Linked DNA regions of Homo sapiens. The protein of the gene in region 3 purifies or fractionates together with the protein of the main gene of each other region. This does not show direct contact. Each region holds a gene or a part of one and is shown on either strand. Other genes may lie near its edges. The genes, in order: CSNK1G3, FKBP14 and S1PR2.

What was found.
Region 1: the proteins of S1PR2 (region 3) and CSNK1G3 purify together in Homo sapiens (affinity purification with mass spectrometry; 2 studies listed by BioGRID and IntAct, with this or other methods). This does not show direct contact.
Region 2: the proteins of S1PR2 (region 3) and FKBP14 purify together in Homo sapiens (affinity purification with mass spectrometry; 2 studies listed by BioGRID and IntAct, with this or other methods). This does not show direct contact.

What each region holds. Positions count from the first base shown.
Region 1 is NC_000005.10:123,515,177-123,518,926, reverse strand, and holds part of CSNK1G3 (casein kinase I isoform gamma-3), read right to left. Parts: intron 1-3,750. UniProt on the Homo sapiens protein: Serine/threonine-protein kinase. Casein kinases are operationally defined by their preferential utilization of acidic proteins such as caseins as substrates. It can phosphorylate a large number of proteins. Participates in Wnt signaling.
Region 2 is NC_000007.14:30,013,078-30,016,827, forward strand, and holds part of FKBP14 (peptidyl-prolyl cis-trans isomerase FKBP14 precursor), read right to left. Parts: intron 1,817-3,750; coding exon 1,658-1,816; 3' UTR 1-1,657. UniProt on the Homo sapiens protein: PPIase which accelerates the folding of proteins during protein synthesis. Has a preference for substrates containing 4-hydroxylproline modifications, including type III collagen. May also target type VI and type X collagens.
Region 3 is NC_000019.10:10,229,780-10,233,529, forward strand, and holds the start of S1PR2 (sphingosine 1-phosphate receptor 2), read right to left. Parts: upstream 1,553-3,750; 5' UTR 1,425-1,552; intron 707-1,424; exon of another isoform or gene 634-706; intron 1-633. UniProt on the Homo sapiens protein: Receptor for the lysosphingolipid sphingosine 1-phosphate (S1P). S1P is a bioactive lysophospholipid that elicits diverse physiological effects on most types of cells and tissues.

The DNA.
Region 1 (3,750 bases), on a different chromosome or scaffold from region 3:
TTAGCTGGGTGCAGTGGCATGCACCTGTAATCCCAGCTACTTGGGACGCTGAAGCACGAGAATCGCTTCAAAACAGGTAGACACAGCGATCACTATTTATCATCTCTCTAACATCCATATCCCCCAAATTCTTCCTTCCCACAATTTTTTTAAAATATCCTCCCTCTTCCATCTAACTCAGAAAAATGTGATCCCAACACCAATTGCAGAAGGTATCTCCTGATTAGTAGAAACCAACCATGATAACCTTACTTCCCTTATGATAACTAGTTAGGACGTTCATGTGACCTAATTCTGGTCAATAAGATACGAAGAGAAAAATATGTTGGTAGGCTTATGCAAAAGATGTATTTGCTTTTCCAGAGACACAGACAGAAAGAGAGAGAGAGATCCATTCCATCCTCTGGCCAGTGCATGTCTAGATGTGATCTTGCTGCTGGCCTTAGGATGACTCCAACACACAGAAGACAAACAGCCAAGAAAATCACAGAGGGGCAGACCAGAGCTCTCAAGTACTAGCTTGGAGCCACCCACCCTACCTTCATACTTCAATGTGCCATTTCAGCATCTACTGTAATTCAGCAAGCAATGTGGTTACACCAAAATAAATAGCATACCACATATACCACTCCTTCTCCAACCTGGACTTCCTGCTCCTTCAACTGAAAGTTCTCCTTTCCATTTGGACTGAGCTAGGTGAGATAGGAGGCTCAAGTGCTCCTGGTATATATCAAGGGTGTCACATTTCCTCCTTCAAAGAACAATCTCCTCTACCCCAGCATTCCTAATTGGATGGAGATGTTGGAACTATAAGAAGGCTTACCCCTTCAACCCTGACAGTACATAAAAGTTGAAAGGTAGCTTATGAAATCAGATTAGGGACCATACTGGGAAATATGTGAGAACCATAGATTGATCACCTGACTAGATAAACAATTCACTCTAAGGAATGAACCTCTGGGAATAACAGGATCTTCCTTTTTTTTTTTTTTTTTCTTAAAGAGGATGTTATTAAATAAATCTCTAAGCAGTAGTGTAAACTAGGAAAGATGATGTTTTAGAAGCAGACTTCTTTAATATATTACAATTAATAAATGGTTCTGAAGTTAGCCTAAAAAGGAAATCATTTCTCAACATCTACAAACTCTATACATTTTATTACAACTAAAACAAAAATGTCCATTCACAAGACAATCTTATAATACAGAGCTATGGCCTTTTCTTCCAGTGTGGGTCTATCGAAGAAAGTTCTATTTCCTTTTTCTTGCAAAAACTACCCCCATAAAACAACACCTGTGATTTCCAGTTTCTGTTTCTTAAACACAGAAAGACATTTTACAAACGTGAAAAATAATATTATTGCAGATTTTTTTAGATCGTTAGGTGTTTTTTGTTTTTTTTTCCCTAATCATTTAAAATTATTTAACCCTCATCTATTTCAACCATAATTGATTTTGGCTACTCACTTGATTTCAAAGTAGCCAATTGGTTCTCATACAAACGCCTTTTTATCTTCAGAGTTCACTGAATAATAATTCATTAAACTATGTGATTACAACATCAAGTGCCATAACAGTGTGTTGGGTACAAACACAAATGTTTCTTGGTAAGTCTACAGTAACTGGGGGGAATAAAAGTTCAAGATAAAACTAAAGAATAGTCTACTGTCATTCAATGTAGCATGAGCATCAGTCAGCAAATTCTACAGAGAGAATGAAGACTATCATTTAATCTCACGAGTGGGTTAAGCAGAGGTCAGGTATGAGAGATTTTCCTGTAATAGGGTGTTCCCGAGAGTCTTTGCTTGTCTACCCACCAATCCACCCTCTAAAATTCTTATCGGCAACTTCTGAAATGAAGGACAGAAGATTTACACAGTGCCTACTATGTGGCAGGCATCACATAGTCCTTGGCACTTCATATGAATTTCCTCCATTTTGATGAAGAATATAATGGCAGAATAACAGGGTAACTCTCTTCCCTTTTTTTCCAAATGTAGCTATCAACTGAAGAAAGTACTTCCAGGTAACACAAAGTGATCTAAATAAATGTAATAAATTTGAATACAACTTCAACCTCACATTACTAACCTAGAGAAAAAAAACATTAAACTTTGTATTTAAGAAAAAGAGTATCATGAGACCATCTCTCATTCCATTGAAAAGTTATGAAAAATGCGGACATGATTTAGCCATGTGGACATAACTTACTCATAAATTTTCAATAAATTACAACTATGTAATATATCATTGGTAAACAAAGCGACCAAAAAAGTGTGTCTTATCTCCCCAATACATAAACACTTCAATTCATTGTTAAGAGTTATTTCTTATAACTAAGATGATAAGCACGAAGTGGCAGGAGAGAGTATAACCAATCACTATGGTCTAACAACAAATAAACACATACTTTCCTTAGGTTTCATAATAGAAGGGAAGCCCAAACATTTATAGTTGCTAAATCTCAGCTTTCAGAGAGAGCTTAAAAAAAAGAAAAAATGTCTAACAGCAGCCTCCACCATGTCGCTAGAAGTTATATATTTCTACATTTATCTCCCATTCCATATTTCCTGAGCAGTTCAGATGCCCTTGAAAATCATTTCACATTATTAAAGCACATTTGATTTCTACACATTAAGAATCCAAGCATAGTTCTGTCCTGCAGATCAGCAAAAGGTGATGCTCTGAGGTGCCTTAAATTACCAGAACCATACTGTCTGCACCTACAGGATCCCACAATTAAAGACAGATACCTCAAAACTACCGCTTCTGAAGAAATTACATCATAAAGAACCAACACTCAGACACATACTATCAATTAATACCACGAATTGCCAACCGCTTGAGAAAAGACCAAAAAAAGGATGAAGATGGAAGATAAGAAAAAACAGATCATTGGTGGCTTAAGACTTTGAAGTCAGAAAAAAAAACTGACTCAAATATGCACTCTGCTACTTCCAAGATATATCTTCAACACATTATTTAAACTCTAGAAGACTGTTTCCTGCTCTCAAAAATGAGGTTACACCACCTAACTCAGAGTTGTCGTAATAGTATCATTTATGGCCTCTATACAAAGTAGGCACTTAATAAATTATAGGAGGTATTGTTGTTACTGGGAGGTTGAAGGGAACACAAATTCAGTTATAAGTCCTTTTTGAATACTAAGAGGGGAATAATTAGGGAAGCTAAGAGGGGAATAATTAGGAGAAGAAAAAAAAACTTCAAACAATTTTCCCTGTAACATGATTTTACTTGCATTTATAAACTGATTTTTTTTTCTAAGCACTCCTTTGATAATGATTAAGTGTGGGGTTACATTATTTTAGGGTCGTCTAATATTTAAGATGACTTAAAAACCTCACACACGTTAATCCCGAACTGTGAAAATTTCTCATCTTATCATCCCTCTGTTACTATCAATTTTCCTCACGTACAGATTCTTTTATAATTACTTCATTAAAACCACTTTCTGTGAAAATATACATTCTTTACATTTCATCTCATCCACAGCAAATCTCACTATTAACAATAATATAACTATTCAATGACCTATATTTTGTTATTCAATACTTCAGCATTCCTTCTATTTAATTTGACACATCCTTTTGGGAAGCCCTTTGGAACAAAACAACCGCTTGTTCCATTCTGAAAAACATCTGAAACAATAAACTATACCAGAATAAGTCTACTCCCAGCATGGAGAGGATTACAGGATGGATCAGAGGAGACACAGAGAAGTAACTGGAGA
Region 2 (3,750 bases), on a different chromosome or scaffold from region 3:
GCACTTAATATCATTTTGTACACTATAAAGGGCTACTCTTAGAAAATGAAGATTTGATAACTTTAAAAAAAAGAATTAAAGATAAAAGCCAATTTAAAATAAAATTATATATATTTTTTTCTTTTTTAAAATCCAGGATAGGTATTTATTCAATAGTAGCTGCTGTAGGTCTGCTTCTTTTTTTTTTTTTGAGATGGAGTCTTGCTCTGTCACCCAGGCTGGAGTGCAGTGGCACAATCTTGGCTCACTGCAACCTCCGCCTCCCGGGTTCAAGCAAATCTCCTGTCTCAGCCTCCCGAGTAGCTGGGACTACAGGTGTGCACCACCACGCCTGGCTAATTTTTGTATTTTTAGTAGAGACAAGGTTTCACCATGTTGGCCAGGCTGGTCTTGAACTCCTGATCTCAAGTGATCCACCCTCCTTGGCCCCCAAAGTGCTGGGATTACAGGCATGAGCCACCACACCCAGCTAACTTCAGTTTTTGATGAGACAGAAATGGGAAAATGTAGACTGGTTTACTACTTTATCTTATGATACAATGTTATTGTAGTATAATATACTATAGACTACCCATTAAAGAACCAGGAAGGATATTCCGCTAGCCTTAAGAAGTAAATATTGAATATAAATATAACTTTCTACCTCATCTATAACATATTGATACATTTTATTACAAAGAAACTCACACATAAATGATTTGTCCTATTTATCATAATAGGCCACCAATCACTAGGAGCCAAGCTTCATCAGCTTAAGTCCTAGGTAGCATGTCTCAATGCATACATATTTATATGTTATTAACCGTGTTTCTTTTCTTTTTTTCGAGACAGAGTGTCCAGGCTGGAGGTGATCTCGGCTTACCGCAACCTCCGCCTCCGGGTTCAAGTGATTCTGCCGCCTCAGCCTTCCTGGGTAGCTGGGATTACAGGCACGCATCACCACGCCCGGCTACTTTTGTATTTTTAGTAGAGATAGGGTTTCTCCGTGTTGGTCAGGCTGGTCTCGAACTCCCAACCTCAGGTGATCCGCCCGCCTCAGCCTCCCAAAGTGCTGGGATTACAGGCATGAGCCACCATGCCTGGCTATTAACCTTGTTTCTAACTTCAGCATTGCACATCTCCTTAGTAAAGCAGTAGCCATTAACAAGTCAGGTCCAACAACCATTTTCCTCTGGTCCTCAAGCAGAGACTCAGAGCCAGTTACACATAAACTATTTCATTATAACATGAAAATAGCAAGCCTTGGGCTATTGCAAAAGGCTTTTCAAATGTTGACCTCTAACTTGGAGAAAATAGAGGGAAGCAGAAATATAGGGTGCTAATTTGTGCTATAACCTGGTCTCATGTCGTGGTATATTCCCAGTTGCAACATTTTAAATTTATAAGTGAGAAAGTAAAACAAAGCTTCATATCTGTGAAAGTGAAAAATTGTCCAGAAGTCTTCTATTCAAAGACCAATTAGCTTTTTCTTCCCAATAACTTATCAGAAAGAAATGGGTACTTAGAAACCTAAGGGGTTCTTTAAATAGGAGTCAGAAAAAATATATAAAAATAAAAAACAAAGCAAGAAAGAACATTGTATAAAAATAAAATGTTCTTTAAAGATGACTGCCCTCTCTTGAAAGATGAGTGCTATATTAAAAGGGTAGATGTATCTCTATAACTCATCGTGTTTATATGTAAATTCTCTGGCAGATATAAACCCATCTTTGTCTTCATCTTCTTTATCAAAAATATCCTCCACCAAAGCATCATGATGACTTTCATTCACCACCGCACCATGTTTTTCAAACTCCTTCTTTAAATATGCTTTAACCTACAAAATAACAGATCCCATTAATAACTTGGATTCATAAGATACCCACATTGAGCCAATCAATATCACAGACATGGACTGTTATTATATTTAGTTCATTAACTAAATATAATACCTTCTAAACAGCCATTTTATGACATAGTTTTAATGATAATTAAAAAATAATAGAAACTTTTTCCCTTAAAAAAACTGTTGCTAAACTGCTAAAGTGGAGACACAAAATATTGCTCAAAGGCAGGGCCAGGTGTGGTGGCTCATGCCTGTTATCCCAGCACTTTGGGAGGCCCAAGTGGGAAGATTGCTTGAGGTCAGGAGTTGGAGATCAGCCTGGCCGACATAATGAAAGCCCATCTCCACTAAAAATACAAAAAAAAGTTAGCCAGGCATGATGGCATGCGTCTGTAATCCCAGCTATTCAGGAGGCTGAGGCAGTTGAATCGCTTGAACCTGGAAGGCAGAGGTTGCAGTGAATCGAGATTGCGCTGCTGCCCTCCAGCCTGGGCAACAGAGTGAGACTCTGTCAAAAAAATAAAAAATTAAAAAATTAAAAATATATATATATATATAGCTCTCTCTATATATATATTGCTCAAAGGCAGAGATAAAGCTTATGTCATGTATACAATCCTCATATAGGGCTTATATTATTGGAGAATACCCAATGAGAGCATACTACTTGTTCTTAATCTGAATCTAAATACTAGGCATTTCTTTTCTTTTTTTAGACAGAATCTTTTTTTTTTTTTTTTTGAGACGGAGTCTCACTCTGTTGCCCAGGCTGGAGTGCAGTGGCGCAATCTCGGCTCACTGCAAGCTCCGCCTCCCGGGTTCACGCCATTCTCCTGCCTCAGCCTCCCGAGTAGCTGGGACTACAGGCGCCCGCCACCACGCCCAGCTAATTTTTTGTATTTTTAGTAGAGACGGCGTTTCACCGTGTTAGCCAGGATGGTCTCGATCTCCTGACCTCGTGATCTGCCCGCCTCGGCCTCCCAAAGTGCTGGGATTACAGGCGTGAGCCACCGCGCCCGGCCTTTTAGACAGAATCTTGCTCTGTCACCCAGGCTGGAGTGCAGTGGCACCATCTCAGCTCACTGCAACCTCTGCCTCCCAGGCTCAAGCAATCCTCCTACCTCAGCCTCACACGTACCTGGGACTTACAGGCATGTGCTACCACATCTGGCTTTTATATTTTTTGTAGAGATGGGGTTTCACCATGTTGCCCAGGCTGGTCTTGAACTCCTGGGCTCAAGCAATCTAAACCCCTCAGCCTCCCAAAGTGCTGGGATTAGAAGCATGAGCCACTGCACCCCATGGACACTTCTCTTAAAACTAGATTAAATAGTGGCATCTTTGACTTGAATAAATGTCTGCAAGTAGTGGGTCTTTTGGGTTTTGGTTATGATCATGTGATTAGATTGAGTCTAATCACAACCTTTCAATCTCAGAAAGTCAGGTCTGATAAGTGCCTAGACTACAATTTTCCATTTTCATTTGTTTTTTTGTTTTTCTTTTTTTTTTGAAATAGAGTCTTGCTCTGTCACGCAGGCTGGAGTATAGTGGCACGATCTCGGCCCACTACAACTTCCAACTCCCAGGTTCAAGCGATTCACCTGCCTCAGACTCCCTAGTAGCTGGGATTACAGGCACCTGCCACCATGCCTGGCTAATTTTTGTATTTTTAGTAGAGACAGGGTTTCACCAAGTTGGCCAGGCTGGCCTCGAACTCCTGACCTCAGAAGATTTGCCTGCCTTGGCCTCCCAAAGTGCTGGGATTACAGGTGTGAGCCACCATGCCCGGACTCCATTTTCATTTCATTCAGATATTTAAAAATATAAATATTGTTTTCAATTTCCCACAAGATTCACCACAATGAAAATCAGCCTATATTTTCAGTTTTAATTATATCACCTCTCTTCCTTCTGTTTAGACCAGC
Region 3 (3,750 bases):
AGCCTTTTCTAATCACAGAATCTCGTTTTATTATCTGCACAGCGCTTGCCACTATGGGAAACTATCATGATATCTTTCCTTTTCTGTCTGGCTTCCACCTAGACAGTCAATGCCTAAGGCCAGGGAGCAAGTCAGTTATCAGCCCCTACAGGGATGCCTGGCACAAATAAAACACTCAGAAAACGTGTGGAATGGGCAAATGAATGAATGAATGAATGAACCAATGAACAAAGGAGACCCTAGTGGGTTCCCAAGGGTGGAAACTCCTAAGCTCAGCCCAGACCCAAACAGCAACAAAGGAGCCTGGAGACACCTCTGGTCCGCGGGCAGCGCCCCCATCGCCCACCATCAACCAGGCAAAGCCCAGCGTGTCTCCATGGAGATGGCAGCAGGACCCGACCCCGTGCTGGCCCGCACTCTCGGCCTCCTTATCTGGTTTAGGAATGCGCGGTATCCACGCTCGCTCGCGCGGGAGCCACGCCTCCTCTCCCCCCCGCCCCCGAGACCGCCACACGCGCGGGGCCCCCACGTCTCCAAGCGGCACTGGAAGGATTCCTCTCCGTCCCGCCAGGGGTCCCGCCTCGAGATTCTGGGAAGACTGGGGGTGGGGGACCAGATCGCAGCAGCAGCTGCACCGCGAGTTCCGCGCCTGGCCGTGTCGCCCCACGAGGGGGACTGTGGGCTCAGCGCGTGGGGCCCGGAGCATCTGACAAGGACAGAGACAGAGGAGGGGGTGGAAATCCCCGGGTGAGTCAACCCGTGCCTGAGAAGGGGGCGAGTTCCGACGCTCCGCCCGGCTCGGGGCCACGCGAGGTCCGCGCCACGCGCGCCTTCACCCACGACCCATCCCTGAGCCGGAGTTGAAAGAGGAGGCGTCTGAGCCACGCAGTCACTTTCTCTTTCCTTACAAAACAAAGCCACGCCCCCCGCCGGGGGACCGGAGGAGGCAAACAACTTGGGGAAACCGAGGCAGAAAGCCCGACGTCCGACCGCCCTCCCCGTGGGTGCCGCCCCTTGGCTTGGAGGCTCCACGGCGCGCACATCCTTTTGCCCTCGCTCAGCCGGAGTCAGCCAGGAGGGGTGTTGCCCCCCCCCAAACACACTCCCCAAGACCCCGGTCCCCGAGCACGGCGTCCTGCCTCCCAAAGACTCCAGTCGAAAGCGCTCGGATTCAGCCTTCTCCCCGGCGCCAACTTCCTGCCGCTGAGAAAGGCGGGGAGCACAGTCTGCGGGTTCGCGGCCGAGGCAGTGGGGGCCGCCCGGATTCTTGGAGAGGGCGCACTGTGACCACCCGCTCCGTGCAGCAGGAACCCAGGCGGCGCGTGCGCGCCCCAGCCCCCCGATTGGGGCCCCTCAGCTCGGATCCCGAGACCTCAGGGGACCAGGCCCGCCTTTTCTGCCTCCTTGTCGCCACGCGCGCTCACCTGGCTAGGCCGGCCCGGCTCCCGGCCCTGGCCGGAGGGGCCTTGGCGTCTGCGTCCCCAGGGCGGCCGCGGCTGGGGCTGGGGTTGCCAGCCGGGCTCGGCTAAGTCCCGGGGCTGGGACGAGGGACAGAGGGGGGGGCGGAGAGCCGCCGCCTCTGCCCCCCGCTCGCCCCGCCCTCCTCTCCTCCCCTTTCCGGCGGCGGCTGCAATGAATTCCAGATGTGACCGGCCGGCTGGCCGGGGCGCACGCGGGGGCCGACAGGAGCTGCACGGAGGGCCCTTTGTCCGCCCCCCCCACCCGATCTCTCACTCTGCCCCTCCCAGCCCCCACCCGTGAGAACCGGCCGGCGCGAAACGTCACGCAGCCTGGTGACGTCACAGTACTCCTGGCCAGGTGGCCTCAACCTGAAACAACTGTCTTCAACCCCAGGTTACCTCTGGGCTTACCCCTGGGACCCTGGACTTGGAAGAAAACACGAGGTCACATTTATTGACTCAACAAAGAGCCTTGGAAGTACCTACTAGGTGTCAACGCAGCAAATAGGCATTAAGTGCCTACTGTGTGTCCACCCAACAAATAAATTCCTACTAAGTGCGATGTCCTGTCCCAAAGACAAAATTGATCTCTTTTTTTTTTTCTTTTTTTGAGACATGGTCTTGCTCTGTCATCCAGGCCAGAGTGTGGTGGCTCAATCATAGCTCACGGGAGCCTCAGCCTCCTGCCTCAGCCTCCAGAGTAGCTGGGACTACAGGTGCGCCATCATGCCTGGCTAATTTTTTGCAGTTTTTTGTAGAGATGGGGTCTCGCTGTGTTGCCCAGGCTGGTCTTGAACTGCTGCATTCAAGCAATCCTACTGCCTCAGCCTCCCAAAGTGCTGGAATGACAGGCGTGAGCCACTGTGCCTGACCAGTCTCTCCCTTGATAGGACCTCCAGAATTCAGGTGCTGCCCTGTTTCCCTTGGGGGACTGGGGACACTCCACACTCTTTCCTGCCTCTGTAGATCACTGTCCCCTCTGGCGGGGCCCAGTTTGTGCCTGCCTTCCAGCGTCGGGCCCAGTCTTCTATCCAGATTTCCAATTTTCACTAATTCCTGGGCATTTCTGTGTGCCTGCCTGCGGAAATGATGGACACTACACCTTCATCGAATGATGTGTGTGTGTGTGTGTGTGTGTGTGTGTGTGTGTGTGTGTGTAACCAGCAGTTCGACAACAGGATAGGAAAGCCCCTCATTCCAGCAACAAAATTTTTTTGTTTGAGACAGAGTCTTCCTTTATCTCCCAGGCTGGGGTGCAGTGGTGCCATCTCAGCTCACTGCAACCTCTGCCTCCCAGGTTCAAGCTATTCCTGTGCCTCAGCTTCACAAGTAGCTGGAAATACAGGCGCGTGCCACCACGCCTGGCTGATTTTTTTGTATTTTTAGTAAAGACAGGGTTTCACCATGTTGGCCAGGCTGGTCTCGAACTCGTGACCTCAAGTGATCCGCCTGCCTCGGCCTCCCCAAGTGCTGGGATTACAAATGTAAACCACAGCACCTGGCAACAAATATTTTTTATGCACCTACTGGGCACAGCAGTGAACAACAACAACAGCAACAAAAAGGAAAAACTCCTTGACCAGATGGATTTTTTTTTTTTTTTGAGACAGAGTCTAGCTCTGTCGCCAGGCTGGAATGTAGTGGCACTATCTCGGCTCACTGCAACCTCTGCCTCCCGGGTTCAAGCGATTCTTCTGCCTCAGCCTCCTGAGTAGCTGGGATTACAGGCATGCGCCACCATGCCCAGCTAATTTTTGTAGTTTTAGTAGAGATGGAGGTTTCACCATGTTGGCCAGGATGGTTTCGATCTCCTGACCTCATGATCTGCCCGCCTTGGCCTCCCAAAGTGCTGGGATTACAGGCATGAACAACCGTGCCTGGCCAACCCAGTGGATCTTATGTTCAGGTGGGAAATATGGCTTTTTATGAGGGTACCATTTGTGAAAATGTAGACATTATATGTTATAAACATAATCTGGCCAGGCACGGTGGCTCACGACTGTAATCCCAACAGTTTGGGAAGCCAAGGTGGGTGGATTGCTTGACCCTAGGAGTTCTAGATTAGCCTGGGCAACATGGTGTAACTCCATCTCTACAAAAAATATAAAAATTGGCTGGGCATGGTGGCTCACGCCTGTAATCCCAGCACTCTAGGACTCCAAGGTGGGTGGATCACTTGAGGTCAGGAGTTCGAGACCAGTCTGGCCAATATGGCAAAACCCTTTCTTTACTAAAAATACAAAAAATTAGCCGGGCGTGGTGGCGGGCGCCTGTAATCCCAGCTACTCGG